2 linked regions of the Homo sapiens genome follow. The protein of the gene in region 1 purifies or fractionates together with the protein of each later gene. This does not show direct contact. Each region holds a gene or a part of one and is shown in the gene's direction. Other genes may lie near its edges. The genes, in order: SON and CPSF6.

The links.
Region 2: the proteins of SON (region 1) and CPSF6 purify together in Homo sapiens (affinity purification with mass spectrometry; 2 studies listed by BioGRID and IntAct, with this or other methods). This does not show direct contact.

What each region holds. Positions count from the first base shown.
Region 1 is NC_000021.9:33,573,837-33,578,084, forward strand, and holds the end of SON (protein SON), read left to right. Parts: intron 1-1,759; coding exon 1,760-1,831; intron 1,832-1,941; coding exon 1,942-2,057; intron 2,058-2,528; coding exon 2,529-2,588; 3' UTR 2,589-3,645; downstream 3,646-4,248. UniProt on the Homo sapiens protein: RNA-binding protein that acts as a mRNA splicing cofactor by promoting efficient splicing of transcripts that possess weak splice sites.
Region 2 is NC_000012.12:69,242,462-69,249,765, forward strand, and holds part of CPSF6 (cleavage and polyadenylation specificity factor subunit 6), read left to right. Parts: intron 1-7,304. UniProt on the Homo sapiens protein: Component of the cleavage factor Im (CFIm) complex that functions as an activator of the pre-mRNA 3'-end cleavage and polyadenylation processing required for the maturation of pre-mRNA into functional mRNAs.

The sequences.
Region 1 (4,248 bases):
TTTAGCACATCTTCATTATTTCCTATTACAATACTGGTTTAGTCTAGATTTCATAAACCCTGTTTGCTTTTTTCTTCCAAGCTCAGTAGTTAAGTTGGGTTAGAGTATAGTAGACCAGCTGCTGACAATAATGTTACTTCTTCCTGTTGCCTTGTGTTAAGGCATCTTGGAACTGTTAGCATTGACTGTATTTTCCTTTTACCTTCAGATACCTGGGCAGGGCAGCACTGTGTCTTCTATGTAGCTTGTATGTAGTTGCTAAGTATTTAATCATTCCCACAGATGATAGCTAATTGGCGTCTTTTAAATAACTTCTTCCCTTGGAATAATGTAAGTGGAATCATGAGAGGCTTGCCAGCTCAGTATGATTTTTGTATAGCTTGTTTAAACCTCATTTATAAAAGCTGACAAATGTAAAACTGGGATTTATTTTCATCTTTGTAATCAAACAGTAAGTTGAAGCTAACTTCAATAGTTAAACTGTCTTAATGAATTTGGAAATGAACTAGCTCTGCACCAAATACTTTGATGTTAAGTATTGTACAATTTCAGGAAGCATTGTCCTTGGAATTGTGGGACATGGCCTGACTGTAAGCTCTCAGAGAACCACAGATTTCCCAGGATAGGTTTAGAAAAGCTTATATTAGCATGGAATTATTTAGCAAAGGTTGAAAAATTTCCTGTAACATACAGGATGAGCATCCCACATCTGGAAACCTGAAATGCTTTAAAACAGAAAACTTTTTGAATACTGATATGATGCTCAAAGGAAATACTCATTGGTGCATTTTGGATTTCAGCCTCTTCAGATTTGGGATGCTTGACCGCTAAATACAATGCAAATATTTGAAAACCTGGAATCAACCGACACACTTCTGGTCCCAAGCATTTTGGATAAGGAATACTCAACCTGTATATGAATTGGGAAAGCAGTGTTTGGGTTTAGCAATGTAGCTAATCCCCTTTGTAATAAGTCTATGGAGAGAGAGGTTATGTAGAAAGGTTATGTTCATATTTTGAGAACATCTCCCATTTGTTAGGAAGGGAGAGGAGAGTTTGCTAGGAAAAAAGGGACCTATTTTATTTGGAGACAACCGTTTTCACCTTTTTGGTGGCTTAAAATCCTAACCTTTTTTGGAAGAGTCTTAACTGAAGCTTATTTTTTTAAGAGACAGTAAATCTGCAGAAATCACTTGGCAATAAGCTATTTTTTTTCTTTTTTTGAGATGGAGTTTTGCTCGTTGCCCAGGCTGTCAGTGGCACGATCTTTACTCACTGCAACCTTCGCTTCCAGGTTCAAGCGATTCTCCTGCCCCAGCCTCCCGAGTAGCTGGGATTACAGGCGCGCACCACCACGCCCGGCTAATTTTTGTTTCTTTAGTAGAGACGGGGTTTCACCATGTTGGCCAGGCTGGTCTCAGACTCTTGACCTCAGGAGATCCACCCGCCTCGGCCTCCCAAAGTGCTGGGATTACAGGCATGAGCCACTGTGCCTGGCCATACTTAACTTTTTGTTTTCTGTTTACATTTGGTATTTATTACAATTTCTCATACCAAGATCTATGAATATTAAATATAAATTTATATGCTGAAAAACAGTAAAAGAGAAGAAAGAGAAGATTGATAGAGAAATCGAGTGTACTAGGAATCTGCTGATTTTATTTGAAGGCATACATTTTGAGGTTCAGACTCCTACAGAGGGATCTTTGTTTTAAAGTGGTGCTTTGAAATTTATTTAGTGAACAATTTTTTTTTAAAGGTCTTGTTGCAGTAGGAGAAAGAGCACAAAAGAGGTCTGGGAACTTCTCTGCTGCAATGAAAGATCTGTCAGGTGAGAGCACGTTTTTGAATTTCCTCTTACCCTAATCCCACCTTGAATTCATTATTTGTTGCAGAAGTTGGTGGAAATAATTTAAAACTGGGTATTTCTCCCCCCTGCAGGCAAACATCCTGTGTCTGCTTTGATGGAGATCTGTAATAAAAGAAGGTGGCAACCACCTGAATTTCTATTGGTCCATGATAGTGGCCCTGATCATCGCAAACATTTTCTCTTTAGGGTAAATATGAATTTCTGCATTAATTATATATATTTATTAATGTGATGACTTAGAGGGTGAGGGGTAAACATGATCACAGGATTAAGATTCTGTTCATGGGTGGGGGGTTTGTATTTGTAGTTAAGTGGTGGGGTTTTTAAACACTGAAGGGTGCTTTAATACGACTTGTCAATGTCCTATTTTTTAAAAAATTGGAAAAGGGTAAAATATAGTATACAATTGTTATTTTCTAGTTGAATGTGGGGAATTAATTTAATACTTTTGTCAGTCTTTTTCTCAATTTGGAGACCTGCTCTAATTTGCAGTCCCTTTCCCAAATGATTTGGTTCTTCGGGTTGAGATTATAATTTGACTTACATAGTATGGGTTTTATATTTTTGTAAATTATTTTTCTAGCATTTAGTGAAAAAATACAAAGCTAATAGATATTAAAGTTTGATGCTGTTCTTATTGTATGTTTTTCTTGAATAGGTATTGAGAAATGGAGCCCTTACCAGACCCAATTGTATGTTTTTCTTGAATAGGTATTGATAAATGGAAGCGCTTACCAGCCCAGCTTTGCCAGCCCTAATAAGAAGCATGCTAAAGCCACAGCAGCTACTGTGGTTCTTCAAGCAATGGGCCTTGTACCAAAGGACCTCATGGCTAATGCCACTTGCTTCAGGAGTGCCTCACGTAGATAGATTGAGGTTTTATAATAATCATTTCAGAATTTTACTCTGCATCACAATGTATTTCCTCTTTAATGTTGTAAATATTTGGCAATTTAAGACATTGTGTAAAAAGCAATCTGTAAAAACATCTCCAGGCTTTGATTTTTGTACCATGGAAATTGTATTTAACCATACAGGGTTTTGGTATGTTTATATTGTTTACCTTAGTGATGTATTTGTTTAAGTGGCTAACATCCAAACGACTGTTTGAAGGCATCAGAGTAATCTTCAGTGTGGAATGTTAAATAACGCTTTTATACTGTATTTTGTACTATGATGTAACTCCCCTTCCTTATGGCTAGGCTACTGTAACACTTGCCTGTAATCAGTGAAGGGCTGTGCACCTTGTACTATTTCACAATGGGTTCTGCTGGACAGATAATGGGCCAGTGTTATTGAGGTGATCAAGATCTGTTCCACAGGGCTAATGCCACCATCTCCCCTCAAAATTTTGTAGAGGTTCTAAAAAGAAAGTGGTATGTTGTGTGATGATCAGCACTAAGTCCTGCATTCCTGTTAAAGCCACTTGGGTCATAAGAAGGGAGTAAAAAATGAAGTCTGACTAGAATTCTATTGCAGAGGCCAGTACATTTAGTATGGCATTGAGTTGTGATATAGTTTTACTTTGATGTGCATTTTGAATTTCAGCTACACCTAGATAGACGTAAAATGATAATTAAAATGCTGTAACCAACTTATCTAATAAAATTGGCAACCAGCCACTATTTTGTTGACTATGAGAAAGTTAAAAGTTTATGTTAATTTTTAGGGTCTGATAGAATATTTCATGTGTATTACAGTGGTATTCATATGCTATGTCTCTAAACTTTATTTTCAAAAGCTTAAGGCCCAAATACAAACTTCTCTGGAATAAACGTGGTGTTTTATTTTCTGGGTTATAAAGTGAACAAATACTTAGATACTATTATTTCTTTACCCAATGCTTTTGATTTTTAAGCACTTTTATTTTAAAAATGTGAATTATACAGTCCCCCCCTACACACACACACACACACACACACACACACACACACACACACACACACACACACACACACACACACACACACACACACACACACACACACACACACACCCCTATAAGCACATTAAATACTACTTTGCCGTGACAGCTCAGTGTACTTCACAATTCTTAACACTATTCTATGTGGAATACAAAATGCCTTTTTATCTGAATTAACATGCATTTAAAAAGTTTTAGTATATGTGAAAATAAAGGAATTATAAATCAGTAGGAAAGATATTAAGGTAGAAGCATCACCAATCAACTAGCTCAGTAGATGTTGTCTGTATTTATTTTCTACCTTTATGAAACAAGAACCTGCTAACAGGTAAATCGTAAAGTAACATATTTTTGCCCTGATGCCATTAGTCACAATGCCATGGGGTAACTGCTATGTGATTTCCCATTTGCAAGGAAGCATATTAATTCAGTTTCTGCTCAATATACAATTAGG
Region 2 (7,304 bases), on another chromosome or scaffold:
ATAGATTGAGAATAATAAATTAGTGAAGCTCTAATAGAGTGCCTTTCTTCACCAGGTGAACTTAAGAATGGAGAATGAAGGGGGGAGGAGGCACAAGGGACTGGCTACTCCTTATGGGTTCTCTTTAGTTCTTAGAGGTCTTTGGATGTCACCAAGCTGAGAACAGCTGGAAGGGGAATTTGAACATCTTCCAAACCTCTCTATTACTTGAAGTTGAGAAGAAAGTGATTCTGTCTCACAGTAGCATATCAATTCAGTTTAAACTGCATTTATACTCAAGTGTAGTAATTACTAGCCCAATATTTAGTAATTGTAGATTTTAAAATTCTGGCCAAAACTAAATAATTTAAAAGTTGAATTGTTTAGCGCGAGTGTGGTGGCTCATGCCTGTAATCCCAGCACTTTGGGAGGCCAAGGTGGGCAGATCGCTTGAGGTCAGGAGTTGCAGACCAGCCTGGCCAACATGGTGAAACCCCATCTCTATCAAAATACAAAAATTGGCCGAGTATGGTGGTGCCTGCCTGTAATCCCAGCTAATCAGTAAGCTAAGCAGGAGAATCGCTTGAACCTGGGAGGCAGAGGTTGCAGTGAGCCAAGATCGGGCCACTGCACTCCAGCAAGACCCTGTCTCAAAAAAAAAAGATTGAATTGTTCAAAATACATTTGTTGAGTGTCTGTTATGTGCCAACAACGAGGGATACAAAGTTTAGGTAGTCTCTACCCTTAGAGTACACTGTAGGGGAGCTGAGAGATACCTACATACAGTAGTGCACACGTATCCACAGTTCCACTTTCTGTGGTTTCAGTTACCCGTGGTTCTGAGGTCTGAAAATATTACATACAATAAGGTAGTTTGAGAGATACTATATTTAGCTAACTTTTATGACAGTAAACTGTTCTACAATCATGTGTCGCTTCACGATGGCGGTATGTTCTGAGAAGTCCATCTTAGGTGCTTTTGTCATTTGTGATCATAGAGTGCTTTTGCATTTCAAACCTGGAAGGTACAGCCTACTACACATGTAGGCTATATGGTGTAGCCTGTTGCTCCTAGGCTACAAACTTGTACAACATATTACTGTACTGAATACTGTAGGCAGTTGTAACACAGTGGTATTTGTGTATCTAATATATCTAAACAGAAAAGGTAAGTGAAAATCTTGATATAAAAGATAAAAAGTGGCACACTTGTGTAGGGCACTCATGAAAGGAACCTGCATGATTGGAAGTTGCTCTGGGAGAGTCAGCAAGTGAGTGGTGGGTGAATGTGAAGATCTGGGACATGCTGCTGTAGACTTCATAAACACTGTACAGTACACTCAGGCTACACTAAATTTATTTAAACTTTTTTCTTCAATAATACATGAGCTTACTGTAATGTTTTCACTTGATTGATTATTTTCTCACTGTCATCCAGTCTGGAGTGCGGTGGTGCAGTTGTGGCTCACTGCAGCCTTTATCTCCCAGGCTCAAGCAGTCCTCCTGTCTTAGTCTCCAGAGCAGCTGAGACTACAGGCATGTGCCACCATGCCTGGCTAATTTCAAATTTTTTTTGTAGGGATGAGGTCCCAGCTAGTCTCCAGCTCCTGGGCTCAAGCTGTCTTCTTGCTTTGACCTACCAGTGTTGGGATTACAGGCGTGAGCCACTGTGACTGGCCCGTTTTTACTTTATAAATTTGGACTCTTCAATAATAACAGTTTAAAATACAAACACATTGTGTAACTATATAAAATATTTTCTTTATATCCTTATACTGTAAACTTACTTCTTTTTTTTGTTTTGTTTTGTTTTGAGATGGAGTCTCGCTTTGTCACCCAGGCTGAAGTGCAGTGGCGCGATCTTGGCTCACCGCAACCTCTGCCTCCTGGGTTCAAGCAGTTCTCCTGCCTCAGCTGGGATTACAGGCACTCACCACCATGCCTGCCTAATTATTGTATTTTTAGTAAGAGACGAGGTTTCACATGTTGGCCAGGCTGGTCTCGAACTCGTGACCTCAAGTGATCCTCTTGCCTTGGCTTCCCAAAGCGCTGGGATTACAGGCATGAGTCACCACACTGGGCCTAAACTTTTTTCTATTAAATTTTTTTTTTTAACTTTTAAAATTAATTTTATTTTAGAAGAGACAAGGTCTTACTGTGTTGCACAGGTCTCAAACTCCTGGCCTCATGTGATCCTCTTGCCTCAGCCTCCCAAAGGAGGCTGGAATTACAGGCATGAACGACTGAACCTGGTCTTTTTTTTTTTAAGCTTTTTTTAAAAACTAAGATATACACACATTAACCTAGGCCTGCACAGGGTCAGGATTATCAATATCACTGTCTTCCATCTCTGCATCTTGTCCCACTGGAAAGGTCTTCAGGGGCAGTATGATGCATGGGCTGTCATCTCCTAGGATAACTGCCTTCTTCTGTAATACGTGGTGAAGGACTGACTTGCCTGAGGCTGTTTTACAGTTAACTTTTTGAAGTAGGAAGAGTACACTCTAACATAATGATTAAAAGTATGGTATAGTTGGCCTTGGTGTGGTGGTTCACACCTGTAATCCCAGTGCTTTGAGAGCCTGAGGCGGCAGATTGCTTGAGGCCAGGAGTTCGAGACCAGCTTGGCCAACATGTCGAAACTCCGTCTCTATTTAAAAAAAAAAAAAAAAAAGTGTAAAAACAAAAAAGTATAGTATAATAAATACATAAACCAGTAACACAGTCGCTTATTGTCAAGTATTGTGTACTGTACATAATTGTATGTGCTATTCTTTTATATGACTGAGAGCACAGTAGGTTTGTTCACACCAGCATTACGAGCCCAAACGTGAGGAATGCATTGGGCTAAGATCGCTAAACAATAGTAATTTTTCAGCTCCATTATAATCTGACCACCTGGACCAAAACATTGTCATGCATGACTAAATTGTTCTCTTTTATTAGTTATTTTTTACAGTGCCTACTTTATAAATTAAACTTTATCGTAGGTATATATAAAGAAAAACATAGTATATTTAGGGTTCCTTGCTTTCCGTGGCTTTAGGCATCCACTGGGGGTCTTGGAACATATCCCTCTCAGATAAGAGGGGACTACTATAATTATAGCACACTGACAGGTCCTATATTGTAGTTACCATTCTTTTATGTTTTATGTGTAAAGTTTTGTTGATCTGGAGAGGAAAGTCAAAAAAATTCTGTGAACTTTAGGGAAACTTACACTGCTTGCATTGAAGTAGTATGTTTTGTTGCTTGTTTGGGAGTCAGAAACTCTTAATGTGGAATTTAGTTTCTGCTCTGTCAGGCCATCACCGATAGCACAAATTTAGTAATCTGACCACCCAGCTTTAAAATGGAAGTGTAGGCCAGGTGCGGTGGCTCATGCCTATAATTCCAGCAGTTTGGGAGGCTGAAGTAGGCGGATCACTTGAGGTCAGGAGTTTGAGACCTGCCTGGCCAACATGGCGAAACCCCTGTCTCTACTAAAAATACAAAATTTAGCCAGGTATGATAGTGCACACCTGTAATTCCAGCTACTTCAGAGGCTGAGGCAGGAGAATTGCTTGAACCTGGGGGGCAGAGGCTGCAGTGAGCTGAGATCAGGCCACTGTACTCCAGCCTGAGTGACAGAACGAGACTTTGTCACACACAAAAATAGATTAATTACTTTTAAAAGAATGGAGGTGTATAGAGGCAGTAGTTGGAACAAAGAATTCACTTAGGAGTTACGGACCTGGACATCCGATAAGTCAGTTTTTATGTCATGAATCATTTTGCTTTACGTTCAGTCATTATGTATGTATTCTAGCCAATTGTTGAGCCAATTAATGAAAATAAATTTCTTGGACAAATATCAGAGAAACATTGTTTATGATTTATTTATGTTTACTAGAAAACCATCTGAAATAAAGCTGTCAGGTTGAGAATGAGCTAGGTAGAATTGATTCAGAAAAATGGATAGAAATGTTCAGGGAAGCTAGAACTCTTCTCTATTTTGTTATTTATGGGTGCAGTTAATTTAGTTGCCTGTGAATTGTCCACTATGGTTTATGTGGCATATTTTTAGTACCAAATTCCTTACCATTATATAAGGAAGGGATTTTTACAGGGATTACTAGCCAGTTTTAATAACTACTGAGAACATAATTAGATAAAACCAGAAAATGATATATTTTCTTTAAAAATGTATGCATTAGGTTATCTGCTATTGGATTTTGCATACTAGTATTTCTTTTCCGAGGTATAGGATATATTTTGTAAATGCAAAATGTAACTTCCCCCCTTCATATATTTCTCTAAATGGAAATAATTTAAAATAGGCTTTGAAACAAGTGGCCTTTGCTGTGCATTTACTGATAGTATCATATAATGCACGAATTTTGTATGTATTTATGTATTTTTATGGTAGAGATGGGATCTTCCTAAGTTGCCCAGGCTGGTCTTAGACTCCTGGGCTCAAGGGATCCTCTTGCCTTGGCCTCCCAAAGTGGTGGGATTAACAGGCATGAACCACCATGCCTAGCCTCGAATGATATTACTGTAATTTTAGAACCATCAAAAAAATATCAGGCCTGTCAGGGAGAATGATGAATATTTTGACAGCCAACAAGTTCATCCCAATAGTGGTATACAGTATGTATCGTATATCTGTGATATTAAAATTGTAAGAGGGGTAATTAGGGAAAAAATGTCTAAAAGTAACTTCTTGAAGGGAGGGAGGAGACAGGGATAATGAAAAGGTTGAGAAGCCATACTTTAAGGGAACTAATAGGATTTTGGTCATTTTGCCATCCATTTTCTCTGGCTTGGCAACAGATATTTGTATATCATGTGGAGCATAATCTTGTTGTGTAAAATGTTGAGAGAATACCTTGTCTAAAGAATGATTGTAGTGATTTAGAATGGTAGGGAATGAAAAAAATTAGTGAGTTTTTTTTTTTTTTAAACAAACCCTAAGAGCTGTTGTTTATTCCAAGCTTTATGTAACATAGCTGGCTAGCTACTATGAACAGCAGATAAGATTGGGCAACATTTGGTATCAAAGATAATTAGAGGAATGATGTTGATATTTTCTTGTTTTTTGAATGCCATTAAAATTAAAAGTAATAATTGAAAAGACCCTTCATGTAATAAAAAATGATACCGTGAAATATTTCTTTGACAAACTGGAAACCTTTTTTTTAGTCTGTTCAGTAGGCTCACAGAGCTTTATTTATATATGACCTGTGATATACATTTTGCATAATTTCTCATGCAAACATCATGCATATTTTCTCACTTTATGAAGTAAGAACAAAGTTCAGTATGTTCTGTATTTTTTTTTACGCTGGAGGATTGATGTGATATGAAGCTGATTAAAAGGAAGGTTACTGATAACTACAAAAGAGTGTGCTTTGAGTTTCATTTTTAGTAATGGCAGCAAATGTATTCAGATTCATTATGTTTTTTCACAAAGTTTAAATGTATACCATTGGGGCTAAGTGTACAGGCTGTGGCCTTGGAACAGAGAGAAGCTAACTAGTCCACATGGAGATCAAACCCCAGGACCATGGTCTTAATTAGGATCGTACTACAACCACTTGGAAGCAGTACAACTACCAGACAAAATGGCTGATCCTAAATATTGGTAGAATCATATCAATGTGGAAAATTGGTTTGTGTCAACATAGGAATTCATGGATGGACAAAAATAGTAAGTGATTGTGATATACCAGGTTAGTGTAGCTGCAATTATGCTTGTAAATTTTTTGTCTACTTATGTAAACATTTTCACAGGTTTGTAGCTAATAGAAGAAAACAAAGAATCTGTTCACCTATTTATGTAAGTGAAAGTGTAAATTTAAAAATACATTTAGTCCTGCTGTTAATAACCCTTCCATTCTTTTTTACTTTCCCTCAGACCATATATTGTGATTATAGTTTCTGCTGAGGAGGATGGAAACTCAACTCCCTTTGAATAATATTAGTAATTCTACTTGATGTTCAGAACCGGATTGCAAGAGAGTTTAAAGTGCCCAACACCCCTTGTGGGAAACTTTTTAGTATCTTAAGTGCATGGAACTACTGCTGCAGCCACACCGCCTGAAGCTTCAGCCACACTGAAACTTCATAACAAAACTTACCCTCTTTTTTCCTAATTTCTGTGGTCATTGCAATTTGAGCATGTTACTTTGTTTAACAAAAACTCATTTCTTAAAGATTATTTTAGTATTGCTGTACAAACAGAATAAAATTATGGCATTATTCAGTGACTTGTGGTCTTAGTTTCTGCCCTTTGTTAAATTTAGCTTTGTTCTCTGATTTAACCTTGAGATCCCAGACCCCTTATTAAATAAGTCTTATAGACATTCTACCTCGTAACAAGTAAAATTGGTATGTAAAGATTCTGTAACTAGTAAATTGGATAAGTCATTAATTACATAAACGATTACCTGATGATTACTTGAGGTCCCTTTATTTAGGAATATAAATGATATTTCCCCTACTAGGCTTTTTTCTTTTTCTTTTAAAAAGATCTTATTCTCGGCCGGGTGTGGTGGCTCACACCTGTAATCCCAGCACTTTGGGAGGCCGAGGCGGGCGGATCACGAGGTCAGGAGATCAAGACCATCCTGGCTAACCCATCCTGCCTAACACGGTGAAACCCCATCTCTACAAAAAATACAAGAAATTAGCTGGGCAAGGTAGCGGGCGCCTGTAGTCCCAGCTACTCGGGGGGGGGGGGGGGGGCTGAGGCAGGAGAATGGCGTGAACCCAGGAGGCGGAGCTTGCAGTGAGCCGAGATTGCGCCACTGCACTCCAGCCTGGGCGACAGAGCAAGACTCCGTCTCAAAAAAATAAATAAATAAAAATTAAAATTAAAAAAATACAAAATAAATAAAAGATCTTATTCTGGCTCTCCTTTAAATAGCAAAACAGTAGCCTGGGCCCATAATATCTTGTTGCTCTGTTTACCATCATATAACAAATGCTTTTCTCTGGGTCATTCTATCCATTTAGGGACTATTTTGGCTAATAGTCCCTAAAACCATTAGCTCCTCCATATGTGCCATTTGTATAATTCTTTAGTAAATTGTATTAATGGGAGAATCTGTAAGTTACGTCTGAACTTTCAGGTTGTCTTATAATTGTCTTTTTCCTTATGTCAGATGTTCTATGTCATAAGAATAAAATGGTTCACACCAATACAAGTACTTAGTTGTGGAAAGGGAGAGTAGAAGATAAAAATGGAGATTTTCCTGTGCTACAGGCTTAGTCAAGCTTATGGTCTATTTAATGGTTATCAAAGGCAATTAAATAGTGTTGAGTGTTCTGCTTTTACCTAC